4 separate regions of the Homo sapiens genome follow, and regions 1, 2 and 3 are each linked to region 4. Evidence: fine-mapped expression QTL. A gene starts in region 4. Each other region holds a variant in brackets. All regions are shown on one strand. Distances are from middle to middle. Region 1 has its middle 72 kb from the start of MICALL2. Region 2 overlaps SNX8 (sorting nexin 8). Region 3 has its middle 18 kb from the start of EIF3B. Region 4 holds the start of SNX8 (sorting nexin 8).

Evidence for each region. PIP is the estimated chance that this variant, and not a neighbour inherited with it, causes the effect.
Region 1: its variant is the best candidate, but not a certain one, in a credible set for the expression of SNX8 in esophagus mucosa (GTEx, PIP 0.79).
Region 2: its variant is the best candidate, but not a certain one, in a credible set for the expression of SNX8 in subcutaneous fat (GTEx, PIP 0.71).
Region 3: its variant is the best candidate, but not a certain one, in a credible set for the expression of SNX8 in whole blood (TOPMed, PIP 0.65).

What each region holds. Positions count from the first base shown.
Region 1 is chr7:1,385,653-1,388,331 of GRCh38, forward strand. No RefSeq gene overlaps it. Among named protein-coding and RNA genes, the nearest start is that of MICALL2, 72 kb to the right of the region's middle. The variant GGGCTCCCCTCCCCA/G (reference allele first, on the strand shown) is at 1,239.
Region 2 is chr7:2,268,681-2,271,359 of GRCh38, forward strand. It overlaps SNX8 (sorting nexin 8), which reads right to left. Exons shown (of 11, transcript NM_013321.4): 5 at 879-959. Among named protein-coding and RNA genes, the nearest start is that of MIR6836, 12 kb to the left of the region's middle. RefSeq lists enhancers at 1,377-1,987, 2,597-2,679. The variant G/A (reference allele first, on the strand shown) is at 1,040.
Region 3 is chr7:2,335,049-2,337,727 of GRCh38, forward strand. It overlaps a transcript of SNX8 not described here. Among named protein-coding and RNA genes, the nearest start is that of EIF3B, 18 kb to the right of the region's middle. The variant C/T (reference allele first, on the strand shown) is at 1,591.
Region 4 is chr7:2,313,028-2,315,706 of GRCh38, forward strand. It overlaps SNX8 (sorting nexin 8), which reads right to left and starts at 1,414. Exons shown (of 11, transcript NM_013321.4): 1 at 1,301-1,414. The coding sequence starts at 1,394. RefSeq lists silencers at 1,090-1,329, 1,430-1,699 and enhancers at 1,518-2,018, 2,019-2,519.

The sequences.
Region 1 (2,679 bases), 930 kb before region 4:
TCCTGCCAGCCTCTCAGAACCCCCAACTCAGCAGCATGGCTGGGCCACTGTGTCCCGCTGCGTGATTGGGCCCTGAGGGTCCTCACCTTGCAGACCTCAACGTTTTGTTGACGTTCAACTGTGTGGCTGGTTGTCGGTTTATGTGGCCGGGGTGGGTGACTCTTCCCTGCCTGACGCTGGAGGGGTCTACACACAGGGCCCCGCGTAGACCTCGCACGCCTGGGAGTGTGAAGCCAGGAAGGGACCCCTGCTACAGACCTTCCCACCCTGCCCTGCAGCCTCTGGGATTGAGCGGGTCACCCTCAGAGCCTCCTATGCCGCAGGGAGCCAGGAGAGGGAGCTGGGGGGACAGAGGGGACCCCCCTAGACACCAGAAGGCCAAGTGGCTGCAGAGGCCCCGCCTCCTCCACCCCTCAGGTGTGATGGAAAAGGAAGCTTACAGCTGCCCTTGGCAGAGAAAGGATAAGAACCGCCTCCCTCATCAGTGCCCGTCTGACGGCCCCGGCTCGGGGAAGTCACGCGTCGCTCCTGAGCCACGCACAGATCCCCTCGAAGGCTCCCGAGAGCAGGTGCAGCGGCCGGCAGGTGGACACACCGCCCACACGTGTGCATGGAACACCTGCTCTGTGCCTGCGGCCGAGGAAGTGGGACCCACTGTTTCTCCCTTGACTCACTCTGGGCCCGAAAACTCCAACATTGTGGCCCCACCCCCAGGGTCCTGCTCCAGGCCTGCACCCCGACTGTCTGCTCCCCACAGGAAGCCCTGACCCCACCTCCCTGGGCACCGACGGGTCAGGGGACAGAGTGGCAGCCTCTCCTCCGGGGCCGACGTGTGTGGCTCTGACACGGGGACTTTGGGCTCCAGACAGGGGGCGGGGGACCTCGGGGGTCCTGCAGCCACCCCGGTCTCTACGACTCTACAGAAGCTGCTCTCCAGCCTTCAGTCACGCCTGACACTGCTTCCTTCCCCTGTGCCCGGGGAGCCGGTCCCCAGAGCCACCCTCTGCTGGGGATGGTCCCTGAGCCCCGTTGCCAGGCAACCACCGGGTGCACCCAGGCAACCGCCATCCCGCGTCTGGCCTGGGCTTCGTGTTTCCACCACGTCAGCCCCAGTGCCCGGAGCGGCACCCAGCTCAGGGCCCAGCCAGCCCTCCTGGCCACAGCACCCAGGCAGCGGGGCCCTCAGTCCTCCCCGCCTCGTGTCAGCTGCCAGAGCTGGAGTCCAGGGAGACTGATGT[GGGCTCCCCTCCCCA/G]GGCTGCAGACGGGCCTGGGTCACCGGGGCAATGGTGGCCTGGTCAGGGAGCCAGGCATGGTGCTCAAGTCCGTCTCGGTTTGCCCTGTGGGCCTCCTCTTCCCTCTCCCGAGGACAAGGCGGGTGTCGTGGTCACCTCCAAGGGACAGGGGTGCTCAGCCTGCTCTGCCGTCCTTCAGCGTGGAGGCCTTGTAAACTGTGAAACTGCCCCCCGGCCCGTGCCCCAGGTCTCAGCAGCTGTGAAAGCCATGTCTGAGAAATTGTACAAACAGCCACAGCTGTATCCCCATCAAAATTGGTTTCAAAGAGCAATTAGCACTTCATTAATAATCAATGAGGTGCCAATTTACACATCGCCCAAGAACAAATTGTGGATTCAGTTTGGCCAGGACAGGGAGGGCACTGGTGCCAGCCGGGGAGTGGCGAGGAGGGTCCCAGCGTGGGGGAGGGGTGCTGGGCTCCCACAGTGGTGGTGGTAGGAGGGCAGGTGGGGACGCCACAACGCGCCTGTGAATGAACTGATGCCTCCCACCTGTGGGGGCCAGGTGTCTGCAGAGGCCCCATCTCGTGCGCCCCTCGCGCAGGATGGAAAAGGAAGCTTGCGACTGCCCTTGGCTGAGGCAGAACCCGAAACCACCTCCCGGCCGGGCAGTGGCTCACGCCTGGAATCCCAGCACTTTTGGAGGCTGAGGTGGGCGGATCATGAGGTCAGGAGATCGAGACCATCCTGGCTAACACAGTGAAACCCCGTCTCTACTAAAAATACAAAAAATTAGCCGGGCGTGGTGGCGGGCGCCCGTAGTCCCAGCTACTCGGGAGGCTGAGGCAGGAGAATGGTGTGAACCCGGGAGGCAGAGCTTGCAGTGAGCTGAGATTGCGCCACTGCACTCCAGCCTGGGTGACAGAGCAAGACTCTGTCTCCAAAATAAAATAAAATAAAAATAAAAATATAAAAATTAGCCGGGCGTGGTGGCGGGTGCCTGTAATCCCAGCTACTCGGGAGGCCGAGGCAGGAAATCACTTGAACCTGGAGGAGGAGGTTGCAGTGAGCCGAGGTGACGCCACTGCACTCCAGCCTGGGCGACAAGAGCAAGACTCTGTCCAAAAAACAAAAAACAAGCAAAAACAAAAAACTAAAAAAACCACCTCCCTCAACAGTGTCCCTCCGAGGGGCCCCAGCTCGGGGTGGTCACACATTGAGTTACATACGGATCCCCTCGGAGGCTCCGGAGAGCAGGCGCGGCGGCGGGCGGGTAGACACACCATCCACATGTGCGCACGGAACACCTGCTCTGTGTGCGTGGCTGAGGAAGTGGGGCCCACTGTTTCTCCTTTGATTCTCACGGGGTAGGTGAGGCCTTTACTGAGCACCTGCTGTATGCACACCACCCTTCACCCTTCACACAGGGGCTCCCCACTTCACAGCC
Region 2 (2,679 bases), 44 kb before region 4:
AGGAGCCCCTCTGCCCAGCCAGCCGCCCCGTCCGGGAGGGAGGTGGGGGGGGTCAGCCCCCCAGCCCGGCCAGCCGCCCCGTCCGGGAGGTGAGGGGCGCCTCTGCCCGGCCGCCCCTACTGGGAAGTGAGGAGGCCCTCTGCCCGGCCAGCCGCCCCGTCCGGGAGGGAGGTGGGGGGGTCAGCCCCCCGCCCGGCCAGCCGCCCCGTCCGGGAGGGAGGTGGGGGGGGGTCAGCCCCCCTGCCTGGCCAGCCGCCCCGTCCGGGAGGTGAGGGGCGCCTCTGCCCGGCCACCCCTACTGGGAAGTGAGGAGCCCCTCTGCCCGGCCACCACCCCGTCTGGGAGGTGTGCCCAACAGCTCATTGAGAACGGGCCAGGATGACAATGGCGGCTTTGTGGAATAGAAAGGCGGGAAAGGTGGGGAAAAGATTGAGAAATCGGATGGTTGCCGTGTCTGTGTAGAAAGAAGTAGACATGGGAGACTTTTCATTTTGTTCTGTACTAAGAAAAATTCCTCTGCCTTGGGATCCTGTTGATCTGTGACCTTACCCCCAACCCTGTGCTGTGTCCACTCAGGGTTAAATGGATTAAGGGCGGTGCAGGATGTGCTTTGTTAAACAGATGCTTGAAGGCAGCATGCTCGTTAAGAGTCATCACCACTCCCTAATCTCAAGTAATCAGGGACACAAACACTGCGGAAGGCCGCAGGGTCCTCTGCCTAGGAAAACCAGAGACCTTTGTTCACTTGTTTATCTGCTGACCTTCCCTCCACTATTGTCCCATGACCCTGCCAAATCCCCCTCTGCGAGAAACACCCAAGAATGATCAATAAAAAAATAAATTAAAAAAAAAAAAAAAGAAAAAAAAAAGAAAAATACCTTGGCCCTGGTAGCCAGCTTACAGTTCAGGAATTCGTCCCCGACGCACTGTGCTGACTCCTTTAACTTGTTCTGCACATCCTGCAAAAGGAAAACACACAGCTTCACCCTCTTCTACTAGCAGCAAGAAAGCTGCTGTGGGGTATGGGTCACTGTGGAGC[G/A]GGAGGTCGTCTTTCCTCAGGAGAAACACATTTCCATATGTTGGCTTTGACATTAGTATTCTGCAATCTCTTGACTCTCCCTTAGATGTTTTTCTCACCAAACAGGACAGCCTGGCTTCACAGCAGGAGCACCACAAACCTGCAGCCTCTCTCCAGAGGCACAGCCACTCCATCCGCAGACGGGGGGCAGCTCTCCAGAGAAACAGCCACTCCATCCACAGACCAGGGGCGGCTCTGCAGAGAAACGGCCCCTCCATCCACAGACCCGGGGCGGCGTCAGCCCCAGAGATACCTGAGACCCTGGTAGCTTCCAAAAACGCAATAGAACAGGGCAAAAGTGTCTTCCTTCCTGGGAATGCATCCATGGCGCCAGGGACACCAGAGCCCAGGGAGCTGCTGGGCAGAGGGACAGGCCCAGCCCCTGGCACCGGAGCCCTCTCATCTGAAAGAGGCCTCCTGGGCAAAGCCGTGCCTTAAAGTCAGGAGCCACCCAGGAGATACAAGGGGAAACCCTAATATGCAGCTGTTTGCGTGTCCAGGAATTCTCAGGTTTCAGAGATGCCTTAAAGATCATCTGACTCAACTCTCATTTTACAAAAAAAAAAAAAAAAAAAAAAAAAAAGACCTGAGGCCCAGCATGGTGCGTGCCTGTAGTCCCAGCTACTCAGAGCCTGAGGCGGGAGGATCGCTGGAGCCCAGGGGTTCAGGGCCAGCCTGGGTAACATAGTGAGACCCCATCTCTAAAAACAGAAAGCAAGCAAGAAAACTGAGGCCGGGAAGTGACAGAGAATGATACCTGTGGGAAGGCCACAGGGAACGTCCTGCCCCCAGAACAGGGATATTGCCCACCTGTGACCCACTGCACCCCTGCCCACCGCCCCTCCCAGGTCCTGCCACATTCCTCTGCTGGCAATGCAGATCGCCTCCAAAGGAAGGTTTCCAACCCCAGGGCTCAAAAGATCCCACTGCCTGCTCCAGACATCCCCGGGGGCATCCCAGGGACATCTCAGGCACAGGGGGAAGGCCCCTCTGCCTCCGAGAGGAACGAAGACAAAAGGAACCAAGGCTTGTGTGAAGTCAGCCTGGGAGAGGGGGTGTCTTCCTGCAGCAGGGACAAGGACAGAGGCCGTCAGGTCCCCATTCAAGACGGGGTTTCCCTGAAATAGAGGAGAGCCTGGAAACCTCTATTCCAGTGGAGCCCCCGCCCCTCCCCGCACAGGGAGAGGGTCCTGCAGGCACAGGTGGAGGAGAAGCACAGGACCCGCCTTCCCTGGAGGGGCTGGCAGCTGCTTCCTCCTCCAGGAAACAGGAGCTGGGCTGCAGGGTTGTTTTTTGTTTTTTTGAGACAGGGTCTCACTCTGTCGCCCAGGCTGGAGTGCAGTGGCACAATCACAGCTCACTGCAAGCTCCACCTCCTGGGTTCAAGCGATTCTCATGCCTCAGCCTCCCAAGTGACTGGGATTACAGGTGTGCACCACCATGCCTGGCCTCAGTTTTGTTTTGGTAGAGACGAAGTCTCGCTATGTTGTCCAGGCTGGTCTCAAACGCCTGGGCTTAAGGGACCATCCAGCCTCGGCCTCTCCGAGCGCTGGGATTAGAGGCGTGGGCCACTGTACCTGCGAACTGTAGCTTCTTGACAC
Region 3 (2,679 bases), 22 kb after region 4:
ACCTGGGTGTGGTTGTGTGCGCCTGTAATCCCAGCTACTTGGGAGGCTGAGGCAGGATAACCATTTGAACCCTGAAGGCGGAGTTTGCAGTGAGCTGAGATCATGCCACTGCACTCCAGCCTGGGCAACAGAGTGAGACTCTGTCTCAAAAGAAAAAAGAAAAAAAAAATAGCCAGATGTTGGAAACAAGCCAGAGGTTCATGAACAGCCAACGGATAAACAAATTGTTCTATGCTCATACAATGGATACTACTCAGCAGTAAAAAGGGGCAAACTACAGACACAGGCAACAAGGAGAAGCCTCTCAAACAGCATGCTAGCCGGGCGTGGTGGCTCACGCCTGTAATCCCAGCACTTTGGGAGGCCTAGGCGAGAACATTGCTTGAGGCCAGGAGTTCGAAACCCGCCTGGGCAACATAGCCAGAGCCCATCTCAATAAAAAAAAGAAAGAAACAATATGCTGAGTGAAAGTAGCCAGGCGCGGTGGCTCACGCCTGTAATCCCAGCACTTCGGGAGGCCGAGGCGGGCGTATCACGAGGTCAGGAGATCTAGACCATCCTGGTTAACACGGTGAAACCCCGTCTCTACTAAAAATAGAAAAAAATTAGCTGGGCGTGGTGGCAGGCGCCTGTAGTCCCAGCCACTTGGGAGGCTGAGGCAGGCGAATGGCGTGAACCTGGGAGGCGGAGCTTGCGGTGAGCCGAGACCGCGGCACTGCACTCCAGCCTGGGCGACAGAGCGAGACTCTGTCTCAAAAAAAAAAAAAAAAAAAAAAAAAATTCTACAGTAGGCAAAACTTGATGGAATTTCAGAAAAATGAATGTTAATTTGTGGTGAAAGAAATCAGAATAATGCCAGCCTGGCCAACATGGTGAAACCCCATCTCTACTAAAATTGCTAAAAATTAGCTGGGCATGGTGTCAGGCGTCTGTCATCCCAGATACTTGAGAGGCTGAGACAGGAGAATTGTTTGAACCCTGGACGCAGAGGTTGCAGTGAGTCAAGATCACACCACTGCACTCCAGCCTGGGTGACAGTGTGAAACTCCATCTCGAGAAAAAAAAAAAAAGGGCTGGGCACGGTGGCTCACACCTGTGATCCCAGCACTTTGGGAGGCTGAGGCAGGCAGATCACCTGAGGTAGGGAATTCGAGACCAGCCTGACCAACATGGAGAAACCCCATATCTACTAAAAATACAAAATTAACCGGGCATGGTGGCGCAGGCCTGTAATCCCAGCTACTCAGAAGGCTGAGGCAGGAGAATCGCTTGAACTGGGTGGCGGAGTTTGCAGTGAGCCGAGATCGTGCCATTTCACTCCAGCCTGGGCAACTTCAGCCTGTCTCAAAAATAACAATAATAACAAATTTTTAAAAAATGCTGGGCGTGGTGGCTCACACCTGTAATCCTAGCACTTTGGGAGGCCAAGGCAGGCAGATCATGAGGTCAGGAGTTTGAAACCAGCCTGCCTAACGCAGTGAAATCCCTTCTCTACTAAAAATACAAAAAATTAGCTGGGCATGGTGGTGCGCACCTGTAAACCCAGCTACTTGGGAGGCTGAGGTAGGAGAATTGCTTGAACCCGGGAGG[C/T]GGAGGTTGCAGTGAGCCGAGATTGCGTCACTGCACTCTAGCCTGGCTACAGAGCGAGACTCCTTCTCAAAAAAATAAATAAATAAGCCTGGGCACAGTGGCTCACCCCTGTTATCCCAGCTGTTTGGGAGACCAAGGAGGGCAGATCATTTGAGGTCAGAAGTTCGAGAGTAGCATGGCCAACATGGTGAAACCTCATCTCTACTAAAAAAACAAAAAAATGAGCTGGGCATGGTGATGCATGCCTGTAATCCCAGCTACTCCGGAGCCTGAGGCATGAGAATCGCTTGAACCCAGCAGGCGGAGGTTGCAGTGAGCCGAGACTGCGTTACTACACTCCAGCCTGGGTGACAGACTGAGTCCTTGTCTCAAAAAAAAAAAAGAAAGAAATCAGTATAGCGGTTGCCTATTGTGGAGGAGGGCGTGGGGGAATTTTGCCAGTGACAGAAATGTTCTGTCTCTTGATAAGGGTCACACCACTGTGCGTAGCTGTGAAGATTCTTTAATTTGTAGCATATAAGATCCGTGCATTCCAGCCCGGTGTGACGGGTCATGCCTGTAATCCCCACACTTTCAGAGGCCGAGGCAGGCAGATCACTTGAGGTCAGGAGTTCGAGACCAGCCCGGGCAACACAAGGAGACCCTAAAAAGTAAAACAATTAGTGAGGCGTGATGGCACGCACCTGTGGTCCTAGCTAGTTGGGAGGCTGAGGAGGGAGGATCACTTGAGCTCAGGAGGCAGAGGTAGCAGTGAGCTGTGTAATTGCACCCCTGCACTCCAGCCTGGGTGACAGAGCAAGACCCTGTCACAAAACAAAACAAAAGTCTGTGCATTTCCCTTATGTAAATTACACTTTAATAAAAATCAGTAATACATTTCTAGCCAAAAATCTCCAATGTATTTGGAAATGTAAAATAATCCATAATAAAATTACAGACTATTTGAAATTGACAATGAAAGTTCTACTTATCAGAACTCAAGGGAAGCAGACAGAGAGCAATGCCTGGAGGGAAACGTATAATCTGAAATGCAAATACGAGAAAACATGAAAGATTGAGAATTAATTAGCTCAGGGTCAATTTTAGATG
Region 4 (2,679 bases):
GCTGGGACTACAGGCGCCCGCCACCGCGCCTGGCTAATTTTTTTTGTATTTTTAGTAGAGACAGGGTTTCACCGTGTTAGCCAGGATGGTCTTGATCTCCTGACCTCGTGATCCGCCCGCCTCGGCCTCCCAAAGTGCTGAGATTACAAGCGTGAGCCACCGTGCCCAGCCATGTTTAGCCTCATTAACCCAAATCCCTTAAAGAGAAATACAAGAGGCCAGGCGCGGTGGCTCACGCCTGTAATCCCAGCACTCTGGGAAGCTGAGGTGGTTGGATCACCTGAGGTCAGGAGTTCGAGACCAGCCTGGCCAACATGGTGAAACTCCGTCTCTACTAAAAATACAAAATTTAGCCGAGTGTCATGGTGGATGCCTGTAATCCCAGCTACTCAGGAGGCTGAGGCAGGAGAATCGCTTGAACCCGGGAGGCGGAGGTTGCAATGAGCCGAGATCGCACCATTGCACTCCAGCCTGAGTGACAGTGAGAATCTGTCTCAAAAAAAAAAAAAAAAGAAAAGAAAAGAAAAAGAAAAAAGAAAAAGACAGAAATACAGGCCAGGCACGATGGCTCATGCCCGTACTCCCAGCACTTTGGGAGGCCAAGGCAGGAGGACCGCTTGAGGCCAGAAGCTCCAGACCAGCCTGGACAACATAGCAAGATCCCATCTCTACAAAAATAAAAAAAATTACCGGGCGTAACTGCACGCGCCCGTAGTCCCAGCACTTTGGGAGGCTAAGGCGGAGGATCACTTGAAAGAGAGAGAAAAGCAGCTACACATCTATAGATTCGGTTCACAGATGAGAAAACAGAGGTCCCGAGAGGTGAAATTACTGGCCCAAGACCACACAACCGACAGGAGCTTGGGAGAGAGGATGTGGCTAGGAAAGGCGCCCAAGTCCGGGGAAGTGGCCCCCAGTGCCATCGCTCAGCGTGACCAGGCAGGGCAGAAGAGCAGGGCACCAGGAACGGGGCGAGGAGGAAACTGTCCCCGAGGACGCCTCTGAGAGCCCCGGGAAAGCGCCTCGGAACGCGGCCAGCTGTAACCTGGACAGGGCTCTCCCGGCGCAGGAGGGCAGGGGACCCCGAGGGACGGAGGCGCGAGAGAGCACGGGGACCCCCAAAGGACAGGCGCGCAGGAGGGCAGGGGGACCTCCGAGGGACTGGGGCGTGGGGCCGAACGCGGGGCGCGGGGGCAGGAAACGAGTCGGGGACCAAGCGCGGCGGCTGAGCCCCGTCCGCCGGGGGTGGTCGGGCCGCGCGCCCTGGGCAGGTGGGGGCTACCGCCGCCCCACGCCCTACCTGACGCCGGGGGATCCGCCTCCTCGTCAGCCTCCGCCTCAGCTGCCGCCCCGACTGCAGCCGCGGGCAGCGGGTCCATCGCGCGGCCAGTCATGTGAGCCCGCGCTCCCACGTGACTTCCTCCCGCGCCACCCGGCCGCGCAGCCCTGCCGCGCCGCGCCCTCGCCCCGCCCACACCCCGCCTGGTCACGCCCCCTCCCCCGCGCGCCACGCCCACAGTCCGCCCCTGCGGGCCCGCCGCGCTCCTCGCCCGGCCTCGCCACGCCTACAACCCGCCTAGCCACGCCCACATGCCCCTCCCCGTCCACGTGGACACGGAGCCTGCTGGTGGCGCAGGTTACCTCCCCTCAGGTTGGACCTCCGGACTCGCAGGTGCACTACCTCAGGCGCAAGCCTGCACCCACCGCACCCTCATTCACTCCCATCTCTCCTCGCCCAGTCACGCCCTTGTTCGCTCATTCACCGGTTACACTGGGGTTTTCTGACTCGCACTTCCTCATTCATCCACTCACCCACTCATTCGCTCACCCACGCACTGCATCCTGCATTCATTCATTCACCCACTCACTCACTGCATCCTACATTCATTCATCCACTCACACACTCACTCACCGCATCCTGCATTCATCCAGCCACTCACTCACTCACTGCATCCTGCAATCATTCACCCACTCACTCACTGCATCCTGCATTCATTCATTCACCCACTCACTCACTGCATCCTGCATTCATTCATTCACCCACTCACTCACTGCATCCTACATTCATTCATCCACTCACACACTCACCGCATCCTGCATTCATCCAGCCACTCACTCACTGCATCCTGCATTCATTCATCCAGCCACTCACTCACTGCATCCTGCATTCATTCATTCACCCACTCACTCACTGCATCCTGCATTCATTCATTCACCCACTCACGCACTGCATCCTGCATTCATTCACCCACTCACCCACTCACTCACTGCATCCTGCATTCATTCATTCACCCACTCACCCACTCACTCTCTGCATCCTGCATTCACTCATTCACTCACTTATTGCATCCTGCATTCATTCACCCACTCACCCACTCACTCACTGCATCCTGCATTCATTCATCCACCCACTCACTCATGCACTGCATCCTGCATTCATTCATCCATTCACTCACTCACTCACTTACTGCTTCTTCATACGTTCATTCACCCACTCACTCACTGCATCCTGCATTCATTCATCCACCCACTCACTCATGCACTGCATCCTGCATTCATTCATCCATTCACTCACTCACTCACTTACTGCTTCTTCGTACATTCATTCACCCACTCACGCACTGCATCCTGCATTCATTCATTCACCAACCCACTCACTGCATTCTGCATTCATTCAGT